Linked DNA regions of Homo sapiens. The protein of the gene in region 1 purifies or fractionates together with the protein of each later gene. This does not show direct contact. Each region holds a gene or a part of one and is shown in the gene's direction. Other genes may lie near its edges. The genes, in order: PIP4K2A, PNISR, CWC22, LENG8, NAF1, AHCYL1 and GPALPP1.

Evidence for each region.
Region 2: the proteins of PIP4K2A (region 1) and PNISR purify together in Homo sapiens (co-immunoprecipitation; 3 studies listed by BioGRID and IntAct, with this or other methods). This does not show direct contact.
Region 3: the proteins of PIP4K2A (region 1) and CWC22 purify together in Homo sapiens (co-immunoprecipitation; 3 studies listed by BioGRID and IntAct, with this or other methods). This does not show direct contact.
Region 4: the proteins of PIP4K2A (region 1) and LENG8 purify together in Homo sapiens (co-immunoprecipitation; 3 studies listed by BioGRID and IntAct, with this or other methods). This does not show direct contact.
Region 5: the proteins of PIP4K2A (region 1) and NAF1 purify together in Homo sapiens (co-immunoprecipitation; 3 studies listed by BioGRID and IntAct, with this or other methods). This does not show direct contact.
Region 6: the proteins of PIP4K2A (region 1) and AHCYL1 purify together in Homo sapiens (co-immunoprecipitation; 4 studies listed by BioGRID and IntAct, with this or other methods). This does not show direct contact.
Region 7: the proteins of PIP4K2A (region 1) and GPALPP1 purify together in Homo sapiens (co-immunoprecipitation; 3 studies listed by BioGRID and IntAct, with this or other methods). This does not show direct contact.

The regions. Positions count from the first base shown.
Region 1 is NC_000010.11:22,704,438-22,708,458, reverse strand, and holds part of PIP4K2A (phosphatidylinositol 5-phosphate 4-kinase type-2 alpha), read left to right. Parts: intron 1-3,033; exon of another isoform or gene 3,034-4,021. UniProt on the Homo sapiens protein: Catalyzes the phosphorylation of phosphatidylinositol 5-phosphate (PtdIns5P) on the fourth hydroxyl of the myo-inositol ring, to form phosphatidylinositol 4,5-bisphosphate (PtdIns(4,5)P2). Has both ATP- and GTP-dependent kinase activities.
Region 2 is NC_000006.12:99,408,049-99,412,069, reverse strand, and holds part of PNISR (arginine/serine-rich protein PNISR), read left to right. Parts: exon of another isoform or gene 1-1,105; coding exon 1,106-1,329; coding exon of another isoform or gene 1,330-1,353; exon of another isoform or gene 1,354-2,724; intron 2,725-2,725; coding exon 2,726-2,897; intron 2,898-3,798; coding exon 3,799-3,989; intron 3,990-4,021.
Region 3 is NC_000002.12:179,997,105-180,001,125, reverse strand, and holds part of CWC22 (pre-mRNA-splicing factor CWC22 homolog), read left to right. Parts: intron 1-1,219; exon of another isoform or gene 1,220-1,395; intron 1,396-4,021. UniProt on the Homo sapiens protein: Required for pre-mRNA splicing as component of the spliceosome. As a component of the minor spliceosome, involved in the splicing of U12-type introns in pre-mRNAs. Promotes exon-junction complex (EJC) assembly.
Region 4 is NC_000019.10:54,455,477-54,459,497, forward strand, and holds part of LENG8 (leukocyte receptor cluster member 8), read left to right. Parts: coding exon 1-91; intron 92-490; coding exon 491-769; intron 770-848; coding exon 849-989; intron 990-1,159; coding exon 1,160-1,445; intron 1,446-2,270; coding exon 2,271-2,372; intron 2,373-2,457; coding exon 2,458-2,526; intron 2,527-2,626; coding exon 2,627-2,756; intron 2,757-2,837; coding exon 2,838-3,045; coding exon of another isoform or gene 3,046-3,430; exon of another isoform or gene 3,431-4,021.
Region 5 is NC_000004.12:163,139,325-163,143,345, reverse strand, and holds part of NAF1 (H/ACA ribonucleoprotein complex non-core subunit NAF1), read left to right. Parts: intron 1-2,962; coding exon 2,963-3,123; intron 3,124-4,021. UniProt on the Homo sapiens protein: RNA-binding protein required for the maturation of box H/ACA snoRNPs complex and ribosome biogenesis.
Region 6 is NC_000001.11:110,012,050-110,016,070, forward strand, and holds part of AHCYL1 (S-adenosylhomocysteine hydrolase-like protein 1), read left to right. Parts: intron 1-312; coding exon 313-413; intron 414-847; coding exon 848-950; intron 951-2,713; coding exon 2,714-2,808; intron 2,809-3,375; coding exon 3,376-3,482; intron 3,483-4,021. UniProt on the Homo sapiens protein: Multifaceted cellular regulator which coordinates several essential cellular functions including regulation of epithelial HCO3(-) and fluid secretion, mRNA processing and DNA replication.
Region 7 is NC_000013.11:44,995,799-44,999,819, forward strand, and holds part of GPALPP1 (GPALPP motifs-containing protein 1), read left to right. Parts: intron 1-4,021.

The DNA.
Region 1 (4,021 bases):
GAAAGGTGTGATTGGAGCTCGGGAGCCACTAGGGCTGGGATAGACCATTGAGACCTGCCCGTACAGAATCGGTAAGTCAGATCTCCACCGGAGGAGCAGGGACACTGGGGACACTTGGCTTTGAGGGAAGGACAGAGGAAGAAGAAACAGGAGGAGAAAACAGAGGTCGGCACAATTAGATGTTCCCAAGTGCTTGAAAGTCATGGCTGTGCTTGTGGTTGATTGCGGGTGGCTGTGAAAGCTTAAAGACTTAAGGAGTGAATGAGTGGAAGTAGAGGCAATTCCTCTTTTTTGGAAGGTAAGTAGAAGGAAGGTGAAAGATGCCATTTTGTTAGGAATCCCTGGGGAGTTTCCTTGAATCCGTCTCTTCGTTTCCATTCTCACTTCTGTCACTCCTAACCAGATTTGTTTCCCTCTTTCCTAGACTGATATTAAACCCCCCTAGCTTATTTCCCTGTGTCTGCCTTTATCCTCATTTCTTTTCTTTTTTGTACTAGGAACTCCTATGGCAGTCCAGTGAAGGCCATAGACTCCTCAGAATGAGGCTTTTAAAGGAATAAATGAAAATACAGAGGATATGTCCTAGCAAGTTCAAGGATCCTTTTAATTCTATCCATGGACCACTTGGGAGTTCATGGAACCCCATCAAGAACCCTTGCAAGAATAAGATGGGGATAGTGTGGGGTGAGAAAGTGGGGAGAGCACGCAGCAGCCAGGAAGAATTCTTGGGGGGGAACACGCATAGGCTGAATTGATTACCCGCCTGGGTCACAGTGCCTAGTACTTGGGATTCACAACGGTACCGTTAACCACTGAGCTGTGCTGCCTGGGCCAAGCTCAGGAATCATTCATTTCTTTGAGTTCTTTTATTTTCTTAGTCTTAAGAGCTGTTCTTCTTGGATGGACAGAGTATTAGCTGTTAACATGGGAGAAAACTACTTGAAAACCAGTTTTTCCCTTCATAGAAAGAAAATCATTGTTAATGTTCAGAGCATGTAGGGAGAGAACCAGTACATAATTTATTTAAGAAAAATGTTGTAGGGAGTTTTAAAACAGTAACTTACCTAAAGCTAAGCCTCACAATTCTAAATCTTTATAGTTTTTCAGCTACCTGGGCACAGTGATTAAGAGCTCTGGAGTCCTTGTTCGGTTGGCTATGTGACCTTGAACAAGTTATTTTGCCTCTCAGTTCCTTGATTATAAAAGGAGGTAATAATGGTACCTACTTTGGAAGTTTGTTATATGGATTAAATCAATTCATACTTGTAAGATGCCTAAATAGTTGCTGGCACATGGTAAGTTCTTAATGTGCTAGCTGTCATTATTACTATCCTTTAAAATAGAGACAGGGTCTTGCTGTATTGGCCAGGCTGGTCTCAAACTTCTGACCTCAAGCAATCCTCTCACCTCAGCCTCCCAAAGTGCTGGAAATAGAGCCTTGAGCCACCATGCCTATCCTATTTTTTTTTTTAATATCTTAAATGCTAAGAGGTAGCAAATTATCAGATTGTATGCTAAATCAATGGTTACTTTATCCTGTTTTGTAGTAGAACATCATCGTTGTTCTTGGCATCCTTGTGTATTTTTGAGTTATGAATTATCATTTTAGAATTACCCTTGTGCCCTTGCTTTGCTTTCTGTATCTATTTTGTTATGTTCTTTCTTGTATTTTTCACACTTCCACTAGCGATTAGGTTCTTTGAAGTGTCAGAAATCTAATTCACATCCATTAGTTGCAAGTTATGTCAGCTATTGACTTGATATTTCACCTTGTCTTTAAATATGGAGACACTGCAAGATGCTTCAGATGCAAAATGAATATATTGTGGACCTTGCTCTCAAATTGTGCATAACTACAGGGGACACAGACGTAAAATAAATATATGTGTAAATAACTACAGTGTCCAGAATGCTAGGGGTGGAAGGTATTAAATAGACCGTGCAGAACATTGAGCAAAGGCATGACGTCGGTGAAGGGCTTAGACATGAGGCAGTTTGGGAGAAGAGCATTTCAGGCGGAGGGGTCAGCTGGTGCAAAGGCCGTGAGGCTGGTGTTTGCTTGGCTTGTTATGGCAACTGCAGGAAAGCTGGCATGGCTGGAGCACAGCAAGAGGGGGATATAGTGGTAGGAGATCTGCCAAGGTGCTAACCAGGACTGGATCATGATTACTTCTGCCTGGGGGACTTGGAGAATCCTTGAGAGGAGGTAACAATGAGGAGGACCTTGAGGATTAGATAGAATCTCCCAGCTGCAGAAGATGGGTGATATGGTTTGGCTGTGTCCCCACTCAAATCTAATCTTGAATTGTACCCATAATCCCCAGGTGTTGTGGGTGGATCAGCTGGAGATAATTGAATCATGGGGGCAGTTTTCCCCATCGTATTCTCGTGATAGTTAGTTCTCACGAGACCTAATGATTTTAAATAAGGAGCTTCTCCTTTTGCTGGGTGTTCATTCTTCTGCTTGCTGCTGCCATGTGAAGAAGGATGTGTTTGCTTCCCCTTCTGCCATGATCGTAAGTTTCTTGAGGTCTCCCCAGCCCTGCAGAACTGAGTCAGTTAAACCTCTTTCCTTTATAAATTACCCAGTCTTGGGTATTTCTTCACAGCAGCGTGAGAACAGACTAATACAATGGGGAAAGGCATATGCAGCTGAGGGTCCGACAGCGGGCAAAACCAAGCAGAGCGGAGAATGTGAGTAGTTGGCTTTGGGTGTGGCCACAGTGGCAGAACCCAGTAACATGTTAGAAATGCAGAGCTTGGGCCTCTGCAGACCTGCTGGAGCAGAATGTACATTTTAACAAGACATGTTGATCGTCAGCATATTTAAGTCTGAGAAACACCCATCAGGGTAAATCTTTGGTTTCAAGCCCTGAGATTCCTTAGATGTGCCTCAGGGGCTGGTGGGAGGGGGCCAAGCTGGTGGGGGAATTTAGGCCTACCTCAGTTTCCTCCAGAACAGCCTTGTTTTTGTCCTCATTGTCATCTCTCTGTCCTTTTTTTTTTTTTTTTTTTTTTTTTTTTTTTTTTTTAACTGGGGTACTGAATATAATACGTAAAGGGGGTAAAAAAGATCCTGCAGCCAAGAAAATTGAAAACCACAGAGGAACATAAAGGGAGTGTCAGGAGATGGTTGAAAGAGTAGTTTGAGGCCACCTTTGAAGGGCCAAGTGGTTGATGTTTGCCAGAGAAAAGCCAGCAGTTCTGACCAGGGTTACTTTAAAATTTGCCACAAATCTCAAATGACACTCGACCCGGAAGTGTTACTGCCTCCTTTAATATGTTCTCCACTCTCTGAAGTCATTTCTTCCTTTTCACTTCTCCTTGAACTTCACCTAGTGTCCTGTCCCCCACTTCCCCCACCCCGTCCTTCCCTCAGCATATAACCTCATTTAGAAAGCATTGAACAAATAGAAGCCGTCAGCTTCCACTCTTCCCACCATCCCATCTAAATTTTGGACAGCTGGGTCCGTCAGTCTACAGACATGCTGGAGGGGCTGCCCTGCCTGGTTTTGTAGCTGCTAGCTATATATGGCAATTTAAATTTCAGCTAATAAAACTTAAAATTCAGTTTCTCATATCAAGTGCTCACTAGCCACATGTGGTTAGTGGTTACTGGATTGAACAGTGCAGATATAGACGATTCCCACCATTGCAGTGTCTTCCACTGACATGGCTCACCATTCCGGGGCCGCCCATCTTGAAAGCAAAATAAACTACAGTAACAGCAGAAGCTCTCCTTCACCCTTAGTCTCTCATTTTAGTGTCTTCTCGTGTTTTCTGTTCCTTTTTTTTTTTTTTTTTTTTCAGATGAGGTCTTGCTTTTTGGCCTGGGCTGGAGTGCATGGTGCAATCATGGCTCACTGCTGCCTCAAACTCCTGGTCTCAAGCAGTCCTGCTTCAGACTCCCTAAGTGCTGGGATTATACATGTGAGCTACCACACCTGCCCTGTTCCTTTTCATAGCAGGAGTGAAAAGCCTTGTCTAAAGCTGAGGTCTCCTATTTCTATAGAGACACCGT
Region 2 (4,021 bases), on another chromosome or scaffold:
GTTTTTGTGTGTTTTACTTTTTTGTTTGTTTTATTTCACAGTATGATGTAGATTTCTTGATGCTAATTCAGTCTTCCATGGCTTGTGTTATTCCTTTTTAATAGTCACTTGAAACTATGGAGGAATCAGCCTCTCATTTGGGTATGCTGATGGTGAAGTCATAACCTCCTTTCCCTATTAATACTTTTTGTTTCTCCTTATAAGAATGGAGACCTCAGTCGAGACCAGCCTGGGCAACATAGCAAGGCCCTGTCTCTACAAAAAAAAAAAAAAAAAAAACCTTAAAACTTAGTCAGGCATAGAGGCGCATGCCTGTAGTCCCAGCTACTTGGGAGGCTGAGGTGGGAGGATTGCTTGAGCCTAGGGGATTGAGACTGCAATGAGCTGTGATCACGCCACTGCACTCCAGCCTGGGTGACAGAATGAGTCCCTCATTTAAAACAAACAAACAAAAAAAACGAGAATTCAGATTACTTTTAAAAACATAAATATTCTAGTCTTTGATACTGTGAGGTGGTTCATTTCTAGCTTTCTTGAAAGTGAAATTTCCCCACATTTGAAAATGTTTTAGTTCCTAAGTTTAAGTTCTTAAATGACTCCCGCGGGCATCCCTACCCCTTAGTTTTACTCTACTTTGTGACCCTGGGCAAGTGATTTACCTCTGTGTGCCTCGATTTTCCCTCCCGAAATTGGCAAAAATAATACCTAATTTCTCCCTACCTCACAGGGATGTTGTGAGGATAAATGTGTTCGTGTAAGAAAGAAATTATATAAAACCTCAAGGTATTATTTTTGTGGTGTTGTTACTAAACAAATATAAAAATTCAACAAAAATAGTGCTTTGGATTTTGTTACATTTGTTAAAAATAACTTTGGGCATTTGGTTAGGATATGAATTAGAGTGGAGTTAGCTCATTTTGAATTATATATGACAGTTTAGTTCATTGCTTATTTTTAAGATAAACAAAAGGAATTTGACCAAGAAGTCATAAGTTGTTTTTTAAATCTGTATGTTTACTGAAAAATCTTTCTTGAGATCTTAAAATTCTGTGTTGATTTTGTTATAACCGCCTGTTGAATGTTTTTATGCCTAAATCTTAAATAGAATGGGGAATGCATCAGCAACCCCCACACCCCCCTCCAGATCAGCCATGGATGCCACCAACACCAGGCCCAATGGACATTGTTCCTCCTTCTGAAGACAGCAACAGTCAGGACAGTGGGGAATTTGCCCCTGACAACAGGCATATATTTAACCAGAACAATCACAACTTTGGTGGACCACCCGATAATTTTGCAGTGGGGCCAGTGAACCAGTTTGACTATCAGGTGAAAGATATTTTGTTGCTTTAATATTGTAGATGTGCACGTAATCCATTCTTTGGAAGTGTCTCATCAAGAATACCTAAGATACGTGTTTCACTTTTCAGACTTGTATAAATAAGCACATTCTGTCTCAGTTATCAATTTTTGAGTATTAAAATAATTAGAATTTGTTTTCTGATTTTTTTATTTCATTAGGAAAATGGTATAAAAGATCATTACGGAAAACTTTTGAAAAAATTAAAAATGTATAAGTGCAATAGCTATATGATGTTTTATTTTCTAATTTATATTTCAAAATGGTATATTTAAATGTTAAAGACTAGAGAATGCACAGTAATTGAATATAGCTCATGGTTAAGACATGAATAAAAAATATAGATCATTTTCCTAAGTGTAATTCCTTGTGCTATGTAGAATTATGACTGTTTTTCTAGTGTCATTTTTTTTCCATTCTGACATGACATGTTAATGGAATTGTATATAATTTCCTCTGTAGCATCCAATTCATTCCTAGGGACATAGAACTCTGTGGGGAATAGTGTTGTATGTTGGGCTTTATTTACTTCATTCCCTCTGCCAGGGTCTACCCTTAAATTATAGTGCTAGGTGTCATTTTGAAATAACTGATTGCAATTATTAACTTATAAACTGCTATCATAATTTAAAATTTTGAAAGAATTATTTCATGAATTCTAGGGTAGATTTGATAATGGACATCTAGTATTCACCTTGAGATGGTAATCCTCTCATTAATAAATATTCAGATACTTGTATACTTGGTATACAGATACAACAGTTTTTATGTTGTTTGAAGAAATATAATGGCAGGGAGCATCTGCTTACCCTACTTTTGCATGGTAGATCCCATGTAAACAAGACAAAGAGCTGTATTGGCAGCTGGCCTAGAAAAGCCTCTGAAAATAGCAAAATTGCAGAAAATATTTAATGATTCATTAACTTCTATCTTTGCTTATAAATGAATATATCTGCAAGATTATAGAAACAGCTTAAGTTGTTTAGTTCACTTTTTGTTCACTGTAAGTAGGATGTTGAAATTGACAAAAATGTCTAGTTAAAGAGAAATTAGTATCTATTTGATGTCTTAGTGTTGGTAGGATTAGCTTGTAAATGGATTCAGAATGAAAAATTTCATATACTTCTTGAAAGTAGCTTATCAGCTGGCTTTTAGAAGCCTCTTTGCATTTACATAGCCGGAAAATCTTAAGACAAGTAAGCCTAGGTTCTTGGGACCATAGAAGTATCGGTGGATATTAGAGCCATGGAATTCTTGGATGTGCTGCACACATGGATTTCTACTGTCCCAGTTCATAACACACGTGTGTCCCAGAGAGTATATTGTATTAATTTGAAGAAAAAATAAACTGCAATACTCTTTCAGCATGGGGCTGCTTTTGGTCCACCGCAAGGTGGATTTCATCCTCCTTATTGGCAACCAGGACCTCCAGGACCTCCAGCACCTCCCCAGAATCGAAGAGAAAGGCCATCATCATTCAGGGATCGTCAGCGTTCACCTATTGCACTTCCTGTGAAGCAGGAGCCTCCACAAATTGGTAGCTATTTAACTTAGTTTAGTGGACCACAATTGGCATGACTTTTTTATCATATAAAAAGGATGTCTTGTTTTCTTAAAATTGTTTGAGTATCTCTGATGTGTTAGGAATTGACACTTTATTTTTTATGGTCATAAAGCTTAAAATTACAAAAATGATACTGGTCTGAAATTAAAAGGTTTAAATAATTTTATTTAAACCTTTACATTAAATTCCAGATTTTGTGATGAAGTGAAAATTTATGCTAGCCATAGCATGTTGGTATTTTCTTCAGTGTAGGCATTTCAGTACATTATACAGATATATGAGCCCTTCTCCTTTTAAATCTAATTGTTCAATCTCTGTCCACTCTTAGTTCATCTGATGCACTGCTGTCAGATTAATTTTCCTCTGGTTATTTCACTTCCCTTAAGTATTTTGGCAGAAAATTTCAATTTTTTAAATAACATTATAGAGCCAGCCTATTTCAAGTGACAAATACATATTTATGCCACTTTATATCTGGAAAGTTCTAAATTGTTCAGTATTTAATGGACAGGAGCATTTGTTAATAAATCTTTACTTTTTACATTTTAGGAAGATTCTAACTTTACTCCTTTTTTAACTTACTAGCAAATCACTTAATTTTTTCGAGTCTCAGTTTCCTCACCTGTGGAAAAAAGTGGAGTAATAGTAGTGATCTCTGAGGGCTTTTGTAAGGATTAAATTAGATGATGGTTTAACATGCTTTCATTGTGTCCTGGCAGATTGTAAGCACTAGAGCAGTGGTCCCTGCTGTTACTAAAAGTGATGGCATTGAAGAAAGGCATGATATTTAATGGGATATTTTTTAAATTTACTCACAAGTTTGTAGAAATATTTTACTTAACTGACTTGCGTATATTTTTCCCACGTGAAACAGACGCAGTAAAACGCAGGACTCTTCCCGCTTGGATTCGCGAAGGTCTTGAAAAAATGGAACGTGAAAAGCAGAAGAAATTGGAGAAAGAAAGAATGGAACAACAACGTTCACAATTGTCCAAAAAAGAAAAAAAGGCCACAGAAGATGCTGAAGGAGGGGATGGCCCTCGTTTACCTCAGAGAAGTAAATTTGTAAGTAGAATCCCCAACATGAAACTCCATGT
Region 3 (4,021 bases), on another chromosome or scaffold:
AAATCAAGAGACAGCTTATTGAAATGTTGAAACTAACAAAAATAGACAAATTTCTATTCTCATAGATCCTGCATTCTGTTGAAAAGAAGCACATTGGGGAATCTTCCTATGCGTAAAAAAATTAATAGTATTTCCAAATGATTGGATCACTTAACTCTTTATTTGGTTACTTAAACAGCCTAAAATAGACTAGCTTCATGATACAGGAAATGAATGGGGGTAATACTACCTCCCAATTTATAATGTGAGGTTTTCAGTATAGATAATGGTGTCACTGGGTTCATTAAAATGTCTTTTTTTTTTTTCACTCCTCTGTGTCTTACTGTCTTAAAGTGTCTGAAAATTTGGGCTGTCTACTCTCCACACAGAGTTGCAGACCAGTCAAATGCTTTTATATTACTTACTTCTTACAGAAAACAATGTCCAGAACTGTCTGCACAACTTCTAGCCCTGTACTTGAACCTGGCAATCTAGTCATTCAAATGGTTATGAGTCAGCACACCTGGCATATGCAATGACTATGAAGCAAAAGGGAGGACAGCTCTGCAACTCTTTATTTGTAATTTTTGGAGCCAGAAGTGTTTTGATTTCAGTATCTTGTAGATTTTAGAAAACTGCAGTGCCTATACTACATATTAAGTAATCCCCCCTTTTGGGGTCTGGAGTAACATCCTCTAGTCAAAACACATTAATATTTCTGCACTGTATCAAGTCACATTAAGTATCAAGTCAGTATATGCTAAGTTTTGCTCTCAAGTGAGTTGCCACATGCTTAAGAATAATCTTTGTATTTTCAGAGCTTTACAGATTTTAGAACTGCAGATAAAGGATTTTCAACCTGTACCTGGTGACTTTTCTAGAAAGAGACAGGAGTATTTTGACCCTTTTATTTTCTTGAAATTGTGATTCTATGCTGACATCAAATTATAATTTTTTGGCCTTATGAGGTATATCATGAGGCAATTTTTTCACTAATATGTAAATTAAGACAGGAAAAAATAGCAAGAAACGGTTTTTCTAAAACAAGTAAGTTTTCCTTCAGTACAGATATGGAAAGTACATAGCAATCTTGTTTTATATTGTTCAAGAGCGAAGCCAATCTGTTACTCCTATTTGTTCCCTGAAAAGGAAAATCCGTTCCTTGGGGGCTTGGCTGTTGTTGAGGTATTTTCTGAGAATTCCGTTCCGTTATGTCCCCTCCCATTATATTTTGGCATTTAGAATAATTTTAAGACAGTTTTTATTTTGTATTGTATAATATTACCACTTTCCCCATTGGGCAACTAAGGTTTTTGTTTTGGTTTTTGTTTTTGTTTTAAATATGAACTCTGTTAAAATGTTTGAAATTCACCAAACCTGTTTTTACTATTTAGAAGCCAGAGGAGCCAACTAAAGGTAACTCACTATTGATTCCCCTTTCCTTTAGCAATTTTATGACAATATGTTTCAGCAAGTTCCTCTAACTTGGACTGAGAACACCGAAGTGACAATGGTAGAAGTGTTTTGCTACGGAAATCATCTGGAAAGCAGTGCATTTCAGCCATTAGTTGAATATTTTCTCATTTTCTTAATTTTTGAGATGATTGCAGAATTCACAGTTTTCTGCTTAACAGTCTGACGTACTTATATATGTTATTAAATATTTTGCTTTCTAATGCTTGATGAAACTGAGAGAAAAACTATCTTTTTTTTAATAGTGCTCTCGTGAATACTATATCTCCTATTGGAAAATATCCTTTCTTCGGGAGAACAGGTGTGGTTTTGTTGAGTTGCTTTCTTGTGAGAAGGGGAAAGAAATTTAATAATTCACCATAAAATTCACATAGTGATGCTTAGAAGAGCAGAGAGTGCTATAAACTCTAGATAAATTGCTCTCATTTCAGGAATTTCCGATTAGTGTAAGTATTAGCATGCATATGTTGAACTCAGAATTTCCGAACAGGCATATTCTGCATAAATCTGGACAATGACAATACTTTATTCATTTTTTGTTAGAACTATGATAGCAGTCTACTTTACCATATTGTCATTTTCACACTTACGTTGTGAGACATGGAAATGTAACAGATTGTACTTTATTGCCAGAAATTATTTGCTGATGAAAGTTGAAAGGGGAAAGATGATATCGATCAGAAGAAAACTCACTAAATTGAAATATGTAAATTGAAATATGTAAATTTAAATAGAAATAAAATGCACAGAAATTGCTTGTTCTGAAATGTGTAAGTAGGTTGGGAAGAGGAACCGGGTGTAAGACTCCAGGAGAGTAGCAAAGGAAAACGCTAAATCTTGTGCAATGGGGTCAAGTGATTTTTTATTTTTATTTTTTGCTCATAGTATACCTAGTCACAGTGAATTCTAGGTATGCTAAATTAAATAAAAAGGAATCCTTAAAATTACTATGAATGTTTGAAAAGAAGTAGTGCTTCATTATATTAAATCACAGTCTTTGCTATCTGGAACTTTGAACGAATGGATCAGTTTAGGCTAGGATAATTTTCTGTATAGTAGAGTCTGTACTTGTTTACATTTTATAATTTACCATTTTGGCTTCAATTCGTTAGTGTTGGCATTTTCATTGGGACAAAATATATGGCTTTGGCATCAGATAAACCTGGCTTTGAAGTTTAGCTTCTGCCATTTACTAGGTGTAATTTACGTGGACAAATTGCTTGAATTCTCTGTACTTCAGTTGTTTCACTGAAAAACATGGCTAAAAAAAAAATCACCAGAACAGGGTAATTATGAGGATTGAGGAAGATTGTATAAGTGATTATAAATTGTGGCCATAATTTCTCAAGTTTAAAAAACACTTCTTACCTATGAATTATTAAGAATTAATACATTTGGATTTTCTGTTTCCCTTTCCAATTGATTTACAACTAAGTTCTTCACTATAAAGTAGGTAGGCTGTGGGGTCTCTATATTCTGCCTAAGTGGCTCATGGTTTGAGAACAAATTGAGAACCAAAGTTTCTTATGTAAAATTGAAAAGCTGAGGAGACTTGGGGAAAAGTTGGATTTTGGAGTTACCTTGGGAATACTTTCATAAAACAAGTATGCATGGGTTTCCCCTACACTTTCTGCCCATTTTCTGATTTTGTAAGTCAGAGGTGGGCCCCAATATATGTACAAGTAATTCTCCTGTCATGCATTTTTTCTTGATTCAAGTTGTGTTTAATATAGTGACATCAAACTAGTTTTACACTGTTAAGTAGTGATTTAAAACTGACCTGTAGGAAAAAAGTCCAACCTGTCACCTTGCTTGAGTGGCTTAGTGTTTTGTTTATCATTATAGATTTGTTTCTTATACCTAGAATGTAAGCTTCACATGAACAGATTTTGTTACGGTAGTTCATTGCTGCCTATCCAGTGCCTAGAAAGATGCTGGGCAAATAACAGAAGTGCTGTATTATTTGTTGGGGAACAAATGTACGTATAAATAACACTGGGTTTAAAGGTAATAAAGGATATGTTAGAAATGTTAAATGGTTGTGCTAGTAGAGGTAGGGAAAAAAATACCAATATCTTTGAGCAAAAGTAAGTCGAGTAAAGTTTTGAGTTTTATGGCTCTCTATACCTTTATAGCCATTAAAACAGGAGCTTTGGAAGGAGTCATGCAATTTGGTTTCAACAGAGTCATCTTGTTGAGGCAAATGGTCCTAAAATCCAGCTGAGATAAGGGTTATCCCTACAGGGCTCTCATCCTCAGGTGAGGGAGGGGGTAGCCTCTGTTTTAAATATTTTTTAAAATTCTATTTTAATTTGTAGCCTTTTAAGCTACATTTTGTACTTTTTTTTTTTAGTCATTACTCTAAGGAACAGTATATATATATCCTTAACTTTTCATGTGCTACTTAGAGTCCATATTGTATCACCTTACGAAAGATGTAGAAAACCTTGCATAGTGTAGATCCATTTTGGTCGCTAGTTCTATATACTATACATATATATACTCTGGCTACATATATTATAACCCCTCAAGACATAATTTTTGCTGTAAAGAGTCATATGTATTTTAG
Region 4 (4,021 bases), on another chromosome or scaffold:
GCACGGAAAAGCTGCTCAAGGAGGTGCTGCAGGCGCGGCTGCAGGACGGCTCGGCCTATACCATTGACTGGAGCCGGGAGCCCTTGCCGGGGTTAGTCTGGGTGGGGGACATAGGTGGGAGGGTGGTGCTGTGAGAGGCATGGGCTGGGTATGGAGGTAGGAGAGTTGCGGGTCCCAGGTACCAGGAGCTCCAAAGAGAAATGAACTGGAAAGTTGGATCCTGGGGGGATGAAGTCCTGGTTGGAGGGAGGCCGGTGGGGTGGGGTGGGGACCATGGGTGCTGGAGAGGCGTGCATTGCTCAGTGGTTAAGCGCACCCTCTGGAGACGGAAAACCTGGGTTCGCGTCTCATTTCTGCACTGTAGTAGCTGAGCCGCCTGGGGTAAGTGCCTTTCCTTTCGGAGGCGGGTCGGTACCTTGAGGGAGGTGGTGGCGGCTGTCCTGCCAGTGTCTGGCGGGGTTGGTGACGCCCTGCCCTGCTGTATTCTCAGGCTGACCCGGGAGCCTGTGGCTGAGAGCCCTAAGAAGAAGCGGTGGGAGGCCGCTAGCAGCCTTCACCCTCCTAGAGGGGCAGGCTCGGCGACAAGGGGCGGGGGTGCCCCGTCCCAGCGAGGGACGCCCGGGGCTGGGGGTGCCGGTCGAGCCCGGGGCAACAGCTTCACCAAGTTTGGCAACCGCAACGTCTTCATGAAGGACAACAGCTCTTCTTCCAGCACAGACTCCCGCTCCCGCTCCTCCTCCAGGTCCCCGACGCGCCACTTCCGCAGAAGGTACTGAGGCTCCCGGCTGGGGCTGTGTGTGAGGGAGGGGGAGGCGTTTCAGGCCTGACCCTCCTGCTTCTTCCTGCAGTGACTCCCACTCAGACTCCGACAGCTCCTACTCAGGGAATGAGTGTCACCCTGTGGGCCGCAGGAACCCGCCCCCTAAGGGCCGGGGCGGTCGAGGGGCCCATATGGATCGGGGCCGAGGCAGGGCGCAGCGTGGGAAGAGGTGAGACTGTGTGAGGGCTCGACACACGGGCCAGGGTGGAGGAGGGTACTGGGGACCCATGGGAGAAGGAGGAGGAGGGCCGGACAGGTGGACAGCCAGCTGCCAAAGGGGCGAGGCTGAAGGGGGGCTGGAGACGCCTGTCGCGCTCACTGCCCCTCATCCCTTCCTAGGCACGATCTGGCGCCCACCAAGCGCAGTCGAAAGAAGATGGCGGCGCTGGAGTGTGAGGACCCGGAGCGAGAGCTGAAGAAGCAGAAGCGGGCAGCCCGCTTCCAGCACGGACACTCCCGCCGCCTGCGCCTCGAGCCCCTGGTGCTGCAGATGAGCAGCCTGGAGAGCAGTGGGGCTGACCCTGACTGGCAGGAGCTGCAGATCGTGGGCACCTGCCCTGACATCACCAAGCACTACCTGCGCCTCACCTGTGCCCCCGACCCGTCCACCGTGCGCCCTGTGGCAGTAAGTGCCCAGCAGGGCAGTTCTGCTCTGTGAGGCCGTGCTGGCTCAGGACTTGGGGAGCCAACCCAGGGAGGGTGGCAGAGGCCACACGGGGGCTCTGGTATGGCAGGGGAAGCTCGGCCAGAGACGCCTCGGCTGGTCGGCATTCTGAGAGGAGCGCAAAGGCGCTCTGCTGCCCTGGAGCCCCGCGTGGCGGGTGTGCAGCTTGGCCGGCGAATCGCTTGACCTCTGGGCCGTGGTTCCTGGCTTAGGTGACACGGAGCATAAAGCCTTCTCCCAGGCCCGTGGGCTGTGGGGCGTGGGGGGCTGTGTTTCCAGTGTTTGGCGTAGTCACTGTTCTGCTGCAGAACCTGTGAACAGCCATGTGCTTATAGGGAAATGGGTGTGGAGGTGGCCACTCTTAACCCATGTCTTGTGGGTTTGTTTTCTCTTTTTTTGGGAGAGAGTCTGGCTCTGTCGCCCAAGCTGGAGTGCAATGGCGTGATCTTGGCTCACCGCAGCCTCCGCTCCCCGGCTTCAAGCGATTCTCCTGCCTCAGCCTCCCTAGTGGCTGGGATTACAGGCGTCTGCCACTACGCCTGGCTGATTTTTGTATTTTTAGTAGAGACGGGGTTTCACCATGTTGGCCAGGTTGGTCTCAAACTCCTGACCTCAGATGATCCACACACCTCGGCCTCCCAAAGTGCTGGGATTACAGGCGTGAGCCACTGCGCCTGGCCTTTTTTTTCTTTTTTTAATGTTGCAACTCTCCCACCAAATAAGTGGAAGCCGTTGGCCACGCTACCTGAGTTGTACTCCGAGTGTGAATTCAGTTCCCTTTTTCAGGTTTTGAAAAAGTCGCTGTGCATGGTCAAGTGCCACTGGAAAGAGAAGCAGGACTACGCGTTTGCCTGCGAGCAGATGAAGTCGATCCGGCAGGATCTGACGGTGAGACTCGCGCTGGGAGGGGCCTGGCCTCAGCCAGTCCTGCCTCCCGCTCCTTGTGACTCTTGTTCTCGCCCCGCTGCCCCAGGTGCAGGGCATCCGCACCGAGTTCACGGTGGAGGTGTACGAGACCCATGCCCGGATCGCCTTGGAGAAGGTGAGCTGGCCTCTGCGGGCCTCCCCAGCCCCTTTCCTGCTGCCGTTCTGCCCTCAGCACCCTCACTCTGCTCTCCTCCCTCGGTGCCTCTGCCTTCCAGGGTGACCATGAAGAGTTTAACCAGTGCCAGACGCAGCTCAAGTCGCTGTACGCCGAGAACTTGCCTGGCAATGTGGGCGAGTTTACTGCCTACCGAATCCTCTACTACATCTTCACCAAGAACTCGGGAGGTGAGGCCCAGTCCCCAGGACAGAGGCCATGGTACCCAGGGTTGAGCCCTGCTGACTTCACCCTCTTTGTCTTGGTGCTAGACATCACCACGGAGCTGGCATACCTCACACGAGAACTGAAGGCAGATCCTTGCGTGGCCCACGCCTTGGCATTAAGGACAGCCTGGGCCCTGGGCAACTACCACCGCTTTTTCCGGCTCTACTGCCATGCACCCTGCATGTCTGGCTACCTCGTGGACAAGTTTGCAGATCGGGAGCGCAAGGTCGCCCTCAAGGCCATGATCAAAACGTATGTGGTGCCAAGCTCCCTTCTGCCTTTGCTCTTCCCATCCTTCCGCCTCGCACCGCCCCTCAGACCAGCTCCTGGCCGCAGGCCTCCCCCAGCCCCCAACCCTTGTCCTGGTCCTTGCTTCCCCATCATCTTTCTCCATTCAGCCCTCCCCTCTCCAGTTCCTCTTGCTCTCCTTGTTGGTCACCTCTGTGTTCCGGGTCACTCCTCTCCCTCTCCCCACTGTTCCCAGCTCACTGCCTCTGGGGCCTCTTCTCCACCCCATCTGTGTGTCTCTTCCTCCTGTTCTCTCCTGCCTGGACCCCCTAGTTCACTCCTTGCCCTGGGCTTCCTCAGAACCCTGAGGTCTCTGCTTTCTCAGCTTGTCGCTGTGCTCCCACCATAGAGACCATCTAGACAGCCTCTGGTCTACCAGGACAAGGCCCAGTCCCACTCAGCTCCTTTGAGAGCACCAGAAACGCTTAGGGAGACACCTGTGTTGAGGCCACACTGGGCGCGGTGCCAGAGGCCCCTGGTCAGGCCATGCCCCTGCAGTGTCCTTCGTTCACTAGACATTGCGCCTGGCTTGCTGTGGGTGGGGATGAGTTGCTTGACTCATGTTTAGACGCATGGTTCTGTCTGGTGATTGAGGTGCCCAGGCGACGCTGGGCAATGTCAAGAGAGGTTTTCGCTTGTCACAGCAAGGGGATGCTCTTGGCATCTAGTGAGTGGAGGCCAGGGATGCTGCCCTGCCACTGCCATTGGGCCTCAGAGCTCAGTCTTGCCAAGGTGGAGAAATTCTGGTCGAAGAGGTTGACCGGTAGACTGAAGAGGCCTTGAGAGCCTGGCCAGGTGGCTGTCCACGTGAGGTCATAGTCACAGCATGGAGGCCTTGAGAGCCTGGCCAGGTGGCCCTCCACGTGAGGTCATGGTCACAGCATGGGGGCCTTGAGTGCCTGGCCAGGTGGCCCTCCACGTGAGGTCATGGTCACAGCAT
Region 5 (4,021 bases), on another chromosome or scaffold:
TCAGTTATTTTTCCCAGCAGATCCTACATTATAGCTGTACCACGTTGTTGTTACAGTGTGTGTTAACCTCTGTGTGTGATAGGAATCCTTGGAGATCTTGTAGCAAAAATATAATGACTTTGAGTAAAAAATGGTGAGTATTATCACCTAGAGCCAAGTGAAAGGATACCTAGAAAACCACTTCTCAATGACAGGGCAAGTATAAAGCATCAGTTGGATTAAATTTTTATATGAACACCTACAGAATATATACTAGTTTTAAAGATATAAAGAAAGCTGCTTGCCCACCTCATAGTAAAGGTCTCAGGTGCTACTTTTCCAAATTCAGTTTCTTATACTCTCCTTACAATCTATTACTTCCTTTGCTTTTATCTTGAATCAGGTAGTATGGAAGTTCCAGAATCCCCTAAGTTGGGTGGAATGACCAAGAAGGGATATGGGTGCCTCCTATGGAGCTGTATGAGGAGAAGTGGGCCGGCCTGAGCCTTGCTGTGTCTTAAGTTGCTCTTTACAGTTTAGCTCTCAGGTGTTAGTCAATCTAAACTCTACACTCAGAGGCTAATGGTTATTTAAAATATTGTTAAATTCCTCTTTTCTACTCTGGATTAGCCAAATTGCTTATGTGAACTTGGTCAAGTTTTCCTGTAACATACCTATTAGTATTGGCTCATGCCACATACTGTCTATTGTATGGCTTCCTGTTATCTACTGCCTGTGATGTTGTTTTACTTAAAACTTTATAATGATTTCATTATAGTTGTGGCTCATAAACACTTCAGAACCTAGGAACAGTCAACTAAAATACTATGCTTTGCTTTTGTCCAAGAATTTTGAATGTCACTTATATTTTAGTTCAAACCATACTGCACAGACCTGAAGTTGGCAAGGAATTTTTCCACTGAAATTGTTTTTCACACTTAGGAAATGGATTCATGCTATCTAGGAAACAAATCCCTGGGAAACAGTCTGTGTACCAGGTTGCAAACGATGATTATTTTACCTTGTATTAATGGATACACAGGAAACTTAAAAGATATTTTTAAATCTCTGACCAAATGAAGAATTGGGTTTGTGTATATGTGAGAGAATTAAACTTGTGAATTGTTTTTAAGACAATTTTAAGTGAAAGTAAGACTACAATAATATATGTCATGTAGGCCAGTAAGAGTGGTGCTGAGTGCACCTCTTCTGTCCTTCACAGTTCTTACTGGACGAGGTCTACTGGATTTATCTAAACCTTTTCAAAGCAGATGTCTTGCTATTTTCTTAAAGTTTTTTGCTTTTACACTTTTTTAAAGCTTTAAATTTGTGATGCTATTAGTGTTATTTCATAATACATTGGCATTTTAATAGTTTTTAATGTCACTACTTCTTTTTAGAGTACACATATCTTCAGAATGGTGGTGCCCTGATAGGTGAGCTGTTTTACGCCTTAATGAAAATTAATGAAAGATTCAGTGCTGTACTGAAATCATAAAATGTGAAGAGCATTTACTATCAAAAATCAAGAACTGAGGATGTGATAAAACAGCCATGTTCAATGCAGTTGGTATAAATTGGTCCAAGCTATTTAGAAAGCTATTTAGTAATTTCCATTAAAACTTTTATGCCTTAGTGTTAATTATCGTACTTTCAGCTTCAATACCTCCACTCCTTACAAATCAATTTTTAGGAAGTCTGAAGTATAGTGATTTATATATGTTTATCATGGCATCATGTATTATGTTGAACAAATTGGAAGCTGCCTAAATGTCCTACAATAAGAAAGAAGTTAAGTAAGTTGTCCTGAGTCTGTAAAGGGGTGTTTTATGATAGCTAAAATTATACTTACAAAGAATATAACATGGAACAACTTTAGGTTTTTAAAAGGGGGCAGTATACAAAACTACAGTATGGTCTTAAAGAAAAAAATAACGTATTATAGAAAAAAGACTGGAAAAATCTATACTGGCATTGATCATGGTCTTATCTCTATAATATACATATATTATCTCGCTTTTGTCCCCCAGGCTGTAGTGCGATGGCACAATCTCGGTTCACTGCAACCTCTGCCTCCTGGGTTGAAGTGATTCTCTTGCCTCAGCCCCTGAGTGGCTGGGATTACAGGTGCCTGCCACCACACCCGGCTAATTTTTGTATTTTTAGTAGAGACAGAGTTTCACTATGTTGGCCAGGCTGGTCTTGAACCCCTGACCTCAGGTGATCCGCCCGCCTCACCTCCTAAAGTGCTGGGATTACAGGCGTGAGCCACTGCGCCCAGCCAGAAAATATATTTTTTAATTCACGTATTTTGAGAAGAAAGTACAATTTGAAACCAAGAAGTTTCCTTTCATTATTCTTAAAACGTTTTCAGAAGTAAAATATGTGGTTCTGCTAAAAGCAGTTCTTTTAGTTAAATGTTAAAGGCTGCACCATCTTTGTGTTTTTTAAACATAAATAACTTCTACTTTATTAGTTGTTAAATTAGAAAAAGTCTGTAATTTTACAAAATTCCTAACACTGTGGAAACAGCAAAAGTGATTTAACTCCTATTGAAGTCAGAAGCTTGCTTTTATATTTCCCATCTGATGATTCCAAATGTATACAGTTTTCTCAAAAGTTACCAATTATAATCCTTTTCTGTGTACTTTACAAGTTAAATGAGCAATAATTTAAAAAAATCATAATTTGCATCGAGTTGGTACCATCAAAATGATTTGAATTTGGTGAGGAACAAACTTGTTACTATTGTTTCACATTCATAGAAGGGAAATCTGGAATGAGCGAGTGCATTTTAATCAATATATGAAGACTGAATATGTAAAAATGACATAAATATAACTAAAAAATTATTTTATTGCCCTAACACTGACAAAATTACCTTGTTCTGGCAATTATCAGTGGGATTTTTAAAAGAAAACACTGCTGACTTTTCAAATAGTTATTTTACATGTTAAAAGAGGCCTTTATGTTTCTATTACAGATATTCGAGATATTTGGACCTGTTGCACATCCATTTTATGTGTTACGGTTTAATTCTTCAGATCACATTGAGAGTAAAGGTATTAAAATAAAGGAGACTATGTATTTTGCTCCATCAATGAAAGATTTCACTCAATATATATTCACAGAAAAACTAAAACAGTAAGTACTTTACCGGCATGTTGTTCTTCACTTACCTAACGTTTATATTTTAAGAATAATTCTCAGTGATGTAATTTCTTACAGTTATATTGTGTGTGTCTTGCAAAGAGTTCATTTATCTTCCTAATAATATCTTTGAAGCCTACAATTTATTTTCAGATTTTGTACGTAGAATTCATATCTTTTGTAAAAAATGAGATGATCAGCCATTAAGAGCACATTTGAGCCATGTACACTTTCTGATTCTAGTTCAGTGTTTTTTCCATTATGTACATTCTTTAATGTACTTACTATTTTAGTATTAGTACTAATATTATTATCATTTCTTAATAACTTTTTTTTCAGTTAAGTAAAATTCTCTTTGGATTCTATTTAGGGGCCTTGCTCTTCAATAAAACTTTAAAATAGTTTTCAAGAGAAAAAAAATGAGTGTTATCTCTTTATTTTGCTTATAAATTTTAAGTTTGTAGAAGAGACAACTAACACGTGTCCCTGAAAAATTGTGTAGAAAGTTACGGTGTATGGAGTTGACCTAACCAACAAACCAGTGCTCTCCATTTTGTCTATCAATAATGCTAAGTGATTTCTGTGGCATGTGACCGCAATATTTTTTTATATTTGTGCTCCCATTGGTTGAATATTTTTCAAATGTTAGCTGTTGCCAGCTGTTAGTTGTAGAGCTGTTTGTATCAGCTAAACTTGTTATAATTATGTTATTTAATTTTTTATATCAGCAAATAGCATATGAATTTAAGATTTTTTTTTAATAAAAATAACTTGAATGCTTTCGAATGATGTAATGAATATGAGCCACTAAAAATATTTTCAAATTGGGAGTGGAAGAAAAGACTGCCAAAGACTGGGGGAAGGTTAAATCCAGAAAGACTTTGCACTCAGT
Region 6 (4,021 bases), on another chromosome or scaffold:
ACTATTTTCCTCTCTTCCCAAATGAATGATGAGACTCACCCTTCATTTTGATCAGTTTTAAGGATTTACTTCATTCTCTGTTCAGTCCTCTGTGTATAAAGCTGAAGCAGTAGAGGAAGAGAGAAACTCCAAGTGGTTGCATGACTGCTCTCCACTATTACTGTGCCGTTGAAGCTGCCAGTCGTCATGGAAATAGGCTTAAAGTTTTTCTGCCTCATCTCACCATATCTCAACAGATCCAGACCAGCCCTGGGGCAGGAACTGATGATACTGCTAGTGCAGACCTAGCTCAAATCCTCTGTTCTTTCACAGACATGTCTGCTCTGATTTCACTCAGGAAACGTGCTCAGGGGGAGAAGCCCTTGGCTGGTGCTAAAATAGTGGGCTGTACACACATCACAGCCCAGACAGCGGTGAGTTTGTTGGAAGAAAAGAGGGACTTCTGATAAGGGGAAGAAAGAAATCAATTTTTTTTTTTTCACTTTTCCTTTCCTAACTCGCCAACCTCCAAATGCTAACTATTAATAGGATCTCCCTGTTACACAATAATGGGGTTTTCTGGGTTTTTTTTTAATATGTAAACCCACTTTCAGCAAACTTGACCTAGGAAAGTCTAGATTTGCAAACATATGATTGTTATAAAATGTTATAAAGACTTTTAGAAACCTATGTTTTATGCAAAGTTAAATACCAGTGCACCACCTCGCTGGAGTACACCCTTTTGTAACTTTCCAGTGTAGCACCTGTTGGTGCAGAGTTGATAGGTATTGCTATCTTGATGAGGCTTGCTCTCCATTCCTGGGTGGCCCTTCTCTTCCTCACCCTGTCTTCCTACACTTCTACACAGGTGTTGATTGAGACACTCTGTGCCCTGGGGGCTCAGTGCCGCTGGTCTGCTTGTAACATCTACTCAACTCAGAATGAAGTAGCTGCAGCACTGGCTGAGGCTGGTAAGTTCGGTTTTTTCCCACCAACTTTGCCCCAAAATAGTTATCCAAACATATAACTTTTTTGTATCAAAATTGTCATTACAATATCATATATGTCTAGAGGCTATAAAATTGTGCATGATAAAAACCTCAACAGGAAGAAAGTGGATAATAAAATTAAGATGGATATCCATGGTGGAATATTATGTAGTCATTAAAAATGGCCTTTGAAAATAATCTAATGGCATGGGGTCATGCCCAGTTCTAGTGTTAGTTGAACGAGGAAGAATGTTAAACTATATAAGTGCCATCAATTTTGTGAGAGAGCACAAGTAAGAAGTACCTTTCATATTGATAGTGCATTAAATAATTTGGTATTCAGTATGGCATTGAAAATATATGAGCTATTTGTGAGTTTAATTAAACGTAAAATAATTTTTTATTATTCAGGCCAGGCCTGGTGGCCCACGCCTATAATCCCAGCACTTTGGGAGGCCGAGGCGGGCAGATCACTTGAGGCCAAGAGTTCAAGAACGGTCTGGCCAACATGGTGAAACCCCACCTCTACTAAAAATACAAAAGTTAGCCGGGAGTGGTGGTGTGCGCCTGTAATCTCAGCTACTCAGGAGGCTGAGGTAGGAGAACCACTTGAACCTGGGAGGCAGAGGCTGCAGTGAGCCGAGATCATGCCACTGCACTGCAGCCTGGGCGACAGAGTGAAACTCCATCTCAAAAATTAATAACAATAATAATAATTTTTATTATTCAAATATTCAGAAGAAAATCACCGTGAAGTTTCTTTGAGGACCTCTCATCTTTCTTTCTTTTTTTTTTTTTCTTAAGATGGAGTCTTACTCTGTTGCCCAGGCTGGAGTGCAATGGCGCAGTCTCGGCTCACTGCAACCCCTGCCTCCTGGGTTCAAGTGATTCTCATGCCTCAGCCTCCTGAGTAGCTGGGATTGCAGTGGCATGCCACCACACCCAGCTAATTTTTGTATTTTTAGTAGAGATGGGGTTTCACCATGTTGGCCAGGCTGGTCTCGAACTCCTGACCTCAAGTGATCTGCCTGCCTTGGCCTCCCAAAGTGCTGGGATTACAGGCGTGAGACACCACACCCAGCCGGACCTCTCATCTTTTTAAGATCCTCAGAAAGCAACTTTATAATACTTTTGGGTTTTTTTGTTTATTCTTTTCTGATAAGTGTTCACTGCAAAAAATTTAGGAAGTTCCCCAAAACCCTACAATCCCACTACATAGAGTATTTGATTAATGTTTTTCCTTTTCCTTTCTTCTACTTTACATAAATTCTAATATGTATACAGTTTTATAACCTAAATACAATATTTTCAGACGTAGTTTTCCATGTCACTGAAAACTTTGACAGCATCATTTGTAATAGTCATTCATATGGCTATGTGATTTCACCTCACTATTTTCCTAATGGAGAACATTTAGGTTGTTTCAAGATGTTTACTAATATCAATAATGCTCCAGTTAACAACTTTTATTAATTCCCACTTCATTTTATCTCCTTCTAAGTATAAAATTAGTCCAGAGAAAGGAACACTTTAAGGTTCCAAACTACTTTTAAAGCAAAAATTCCTTAATTTCTTAACCTAATTAATTTCTGAACCAAAAGTGATTCTTTGACTTTTGGCTCTGAATTTTTTCCCTTCTGAAATTGTTTCTTTTGCCTTTTTCTCTTCACATGGATCTCAGAAAGTGATTTGGTACAGGACACTCCTCAAAGGAGGAATCAGCTGATTCATTTCTGTCTCTACAGGAGTTGCAGTGTTCGCTTGGAAGGGCGAGTCAGAAGATGACTTCTGGTGGTGTATTGACCGCTGTGTGAACATGGATGGGTGGCAGGCCAACATGGTAATAATGCATATACATCCTACACTTTGACAATAGATTTATTTCCTTTTTTTCCCTCAAAGCATGGTTCCCTAAATATGTTTTGGATGTTTGGTCTTATGCACTGACTTTGTTGCTAAAGTGTTTAGCTTGATACCTATTCAGAATGGGTCTGAGTACTGAATGGAAAGGTGGGGGAAGGGTAAGACTAGCTGAACACATGGCTCAAACACACCAGAACAAAATAGTGGTGCTTCTTTGGAGTAGGATTCTGCTTTCTTTCCTTCCTGCCCCAGTTCTCCTTTTGCATTCAAAGGGGCTATATATTTCAAGACTCTAGACTAAAAATGAGTCTGTGATTAGCTTAATACTCATCACTGTAGCCTAAAGCAAACCTAGGAATCCTTTTAACCATTTTACACCAACAAATTTGACTGTATTTCCACTCTCTAAGCCTGCTCTAGGGAGCTCTGAGGAGTACTCTTCCAAAACATACAGGGCTCTCTTACTAGTACAGAAAGTGGGTTCAAAGTTCCCCCCAGCCCTAGCAGCCTGAATGCCCATAGAAGTCTTCTGGCTGTTCTATAGATCCTGGATGATGGGGGAGACTTAACCCACTGGGTTTATAAGAAGTATCCAAACGTGTTTAAGAAGATCCGAGGCATTGTGGAAGAGAGCGTGACTGGTGTTCACAGGTAACAGATTCTGGAGTAGCTGCCCCTTGTGTCCTTGCCTCAGCAAACTCTCCTGGTCTCTGTTAGGCTTTAGGACTGTGTTTCAGACTTATAACTAAATGGGAATATCTTCATTAGATAAAATTTTGAGTTTTTACTTTTGAAAAATCAAGTTGATCCTAGAAGGAAGTTATTTCAGGTTCTAGTTCATACATTTTTCTCTCCCATTTACTCCATTGAGTGATTCTCAACTAGTGTTGAGGGGCGGGTAGGGAATAAATGTATCTTGAAAAACTGTATTCAATATTGTATTATCATTTTATATTTGAAATATGAAAAACAATCCTATTGTAAAACTACATGTTATACACACTACAAAAAGTAAAACTGGGCAAAATATTCTTGGCTTGTTGGAATACTGAAAAGATATCTGAAAGAGTGTTTCTTGGGGGCACATTGCGCATGCTTACTCACACACACACGGAACCATATCAGAATCATTGATAGTCTTTGTTTATCAGAAGTAGGCATGGGTTTCTATTGAAAAATGCTGATCAAAG
Region 7 (4,021 bases), on another chromosome or scaffold:
AGATTCTGCATTTCTGACAAGCTCCCAGCTGCTGCTGCTGCTGCTGGTCCTGCTGGTGCCAAGACCACAGTGTTTGTGGTGAGGGATGGGAGCACACGTGGCTTTCTCTATCTGTAGTTATTGTGCTGGATTGTTTGCTGGTTTGCCCCACTAAACCATGAGGAAAGGAACCACGTCCTAAGCCTCTGTAATCCCCAATACTAGCAGGGTACCCAGCACAAAGTGGGTACTCAGTAGATTCCTTTTGGCGGAGTAGAGGACAGTAAAAATTCCTGGTCAGGCGCAGTGGCTCATGCCTATAATCCCAGCACTTTGGGAGGCTAAGGTGGGAGGATCACTTGAGCCCAGGACTTCAAGAACAGCCTAGGCAACATAGTAAGACCTCATCTCTACTAAAAATTTAAAAATTAGCCAGGCATGGTAGCATGCACATGCAGTCTCAACTACTTGGGGGGCTGAGGCAAGAGGATTGCTTGAGCCCAGGAGTTTGAGGTTGCAGTGAGCTGTGATCACACCACCGCACTCCAGCCTGAGTGTTAAAACAAGACCTTGTCGCAAAAAAAAAAAAAAATTCCTTAAGAGGGGCCCAGGATTTATGGGGGTTGGAGAAGCCAGGACCTGCATGAATACAGCTAACCATAATCCTTTGTATGGAGTCTGGAAGAAACCTAATGGCTGGCTGGGAACGGGATTTTTTTTTTTTTTTAAACAGCATCTCACTGTCATCCTGGCTGGAGTGCAGTGGCATGATCTCAGCTTACTGCAACCTCTGCCTCCTGGTTCAAGTGATTCTCCTGCCTCAGCCTCCTGACTAGCTGAAATTACGGGGATGCACCCTCACATCTGGCTAATTTTTGTATTTTTAGTAGAGATGGGGTTTCACCATGTTGGCCAGACTGGTCTGGAACTCCTGGGCTCAAGTGATCCATCTGCCTCAGCCTCCCAAAGTACTGGGATTACAGGCGTGAGCCACTGTGCCCAGCCTCTTTTTTTTTTTTTTTTTTTTTTTTTCCAGTTTTTAAAAATTGTGATAAAATACACATAACATGAAATGTACCATCTTAACCATCTTTAAATGTACAGTTCAGTGGCATTAAATACATTCAGATGATTGAGCAACTATTACCAACATATCCACATCTCTTTTCATCTTGTAAAACAGAAACTCTGTACTCACTAAGTAATAACTCCTCATTCCCCCCTCCAGCTCCTGACAAGCACCATTCTACTTTCTGTCTCTATGATTTGACTACTTTAAGTACATCATTTGAGTGGAATCATACAGTATTTGTCTTTTTTTTTTTTTTGGACTGGCTTATTTCACTTAGCATAATGTCCTTAAGTTTCATCCATGTGGTAGCAGGTGTCAGGATTACCTTCAAGTGAAGATTCCTGAATCCAGTCTGTTATCTGTCCTGTGTTCCTCACACTCTGCTGTCCCAGAAGGAGATCTGACAAGCATGACCAGAGTAAAGAGGAGTGAGGGAGCACACAGGTCTGAGATGGAACAAGTTAACTTCATTTGAATACTCTGAAAATTGACTGCTGGAAAATGTCCCCCAACGTCATGTCATTAGAAACCCTGGGGTGCAAATATTTTCTCAAGAGCGATCCACAGACTCCATATGCTGTTCTATGGAAGCTGAGTGGAGCCTTGGCCATTTTGACTCTAACTCCAGTCTCCTATCTGCAGTGACCTTCACCTCCACTAATTTCACCTACATTTTAAGCTGGAGTAGTGAGTCTACCCTACTCCAGCTCCAAAAACTCAAATTCAAATCTCATTCTCAGCAAGAACCCCTTATTCATTCATTGTTCTCACTCAAGTTACTCCCATTTCATTTGCTTTTTATTTTTGTTTTTTAACCTCATTGAGCCTTCCATCCCTAAGTACTTCTATCCCTAAGTACTTCCATCTGAGAGGAGTGCTTACATCCCTACTCCTGTTAGACTCCATGGTCCACCCATTCATCCACTCTCTTGCTGGTGCTCTCAACTGCTTTATCCCATTGGGTATTCTGCCAAACCCATCTAACAAAAGCCCAGCCCTGGATCAGTCCAAGTGTTTACCCCTTGTGAGCCTACAGCCAGGCTTCCTAATGCTGCTAGAAGAAACCTCACGCCTCCACAAGCTAATGCTGCTAAAAGATGGCCTGTTCCCTAACTGGGTCCATAGGTCTGTCCAGTAATCCTCACAGGCTTCACCTCCTTTCTCTTCCCCAATCTGCAACCTTGGCTTTTTAAAACTTTCCCTTTCTTTCTAAAACTTTTATTTTTCCGTCTACTTCATTGAACAAGTAGATGCCATCATAAGAGAACTTCCTCAATTTTCTGTTACTGTATCTAAAAACTATCCTAAATCCACGCCAAGCTTTTTGTCTGCCCTTTGGTAACAATAGAAGAGGTATACTGCTTCCTTCTAAAGCTAATCCTTCCATTTTTACTCTGACTCCCTTCCCTGTCCTTAGGGCTGCCTGCCCTTAGCATTTAACCAAAACATTCAAATCTTTCCCATCTTTGAAGAAAACTCTACTTCATATCCCCCTCTAGCTGCATCTTTTTCTTTCTCACTGTCTCTGGGTCTTCTATTTTCTCCTTAACCCATTGCATTTCTGCCCTCACCAGTCCACTGAGACCCTCACCAATTCAAGGCTTCCTTTTCAGTCCTAGTCTTCCTTGACCTCACAGCAACATTTGGCCCCTCTCTATCCTCTCTTGGTTCCAACCATCCTGAACACCTTTCAGTTTTCTAAATGTGATGACTCTTTTGCTTTCAGGCTTTTGCAGATGCTTTTCTTTCTGCCTGGACTACTCTTCGTCCAGTCCCCACCTTCTTTGCCCAGCTAACTCAGGTCCCACCCCTACATCACTGCTTCTAGGAAACATTCTTTGATGTTAACTACCTACTGCCTGTAAAAGATGGGTTGGGTGCCCCTTCTTTATATTTGCATGATTTAACCATGTCATGGGGTCAGCAAACTTTTCTTGTAAAGGACCAGATAGTAAATACAGTTGACCCTGTAGATCTGCAGGTTCTGAGTCTTCAGGTTCAACCAACTCTAGATTGAAAGTACAATATTCAAGGGAAGTGGAACCAAGGCCATAGCCACAGATTTTGGTAGCTGCAAACAGGGGAGTTGGTCCTGGAACCAATCTCCCGAGAATACCGAGGGACAACTGTACTTTTGACTGTAGGTCAGTAGGCAAAATCAAGATTATTGTAAAAGTATGTGTACAACAAGAAGGAAGCAAACTTCACAAAATTTTATTGTTGCAATCTAAAACATAATACCATATAATTTTTTTGTAATACAGGTCTACTAATGAGAAGAACAGAATTGGTTTTGGGGGAGTAACATTTCATTTCATCGGAGTTCAAGTTAGCATTCCTAGTCATCAGAATCAGTTGTGGATGTTCATCTGTTAATGCTGATCTGTAATGAGATTTTTATGTATTATACTGAGTTCATTTTTTTATATGCATATCACAATTCTGTGTGATATGAAAGGGAAATAAGTGAAATATAAGGAACGCGTAACTCCTGTTCTCATGGAATTTATAATCTATTTGGAAAATTATCATTGCAATAGGAGAGCCTCCTTAATGACGACAAGCATCACTGCTTTAGGAGAGATATGGAATAGTTCATTACATGTTCCCAAAATAATTTTTTGAGATTATTCATAGTTCAGAAGGATATCTATAAAAAAGTGAAGCCAGACATGTCCTTACTTTTATTAGGGGGTCTGTATTGTGGCGTATACTGACTGACACTTTTAATATTCTTCTCTTTTTTCTTGAGACAGAGTCTCACTCTGTCACCAGACTGGAGTGCAGTGGCGTGATCTTGGCTCACAGCAACCTCCGCCTCCCGGGTTCAAGTGATTCTCCTGCCTCAGCCTCCTGAGTAGCTGGGACTACAAGCATGTGCCACCACGCCCAGCTAATTTTGGTATTTTTAGTAGAGATGGGGTTTCACCATGTTGGCCAGGATGGTCTTGATCTCTTGACCTCATGATC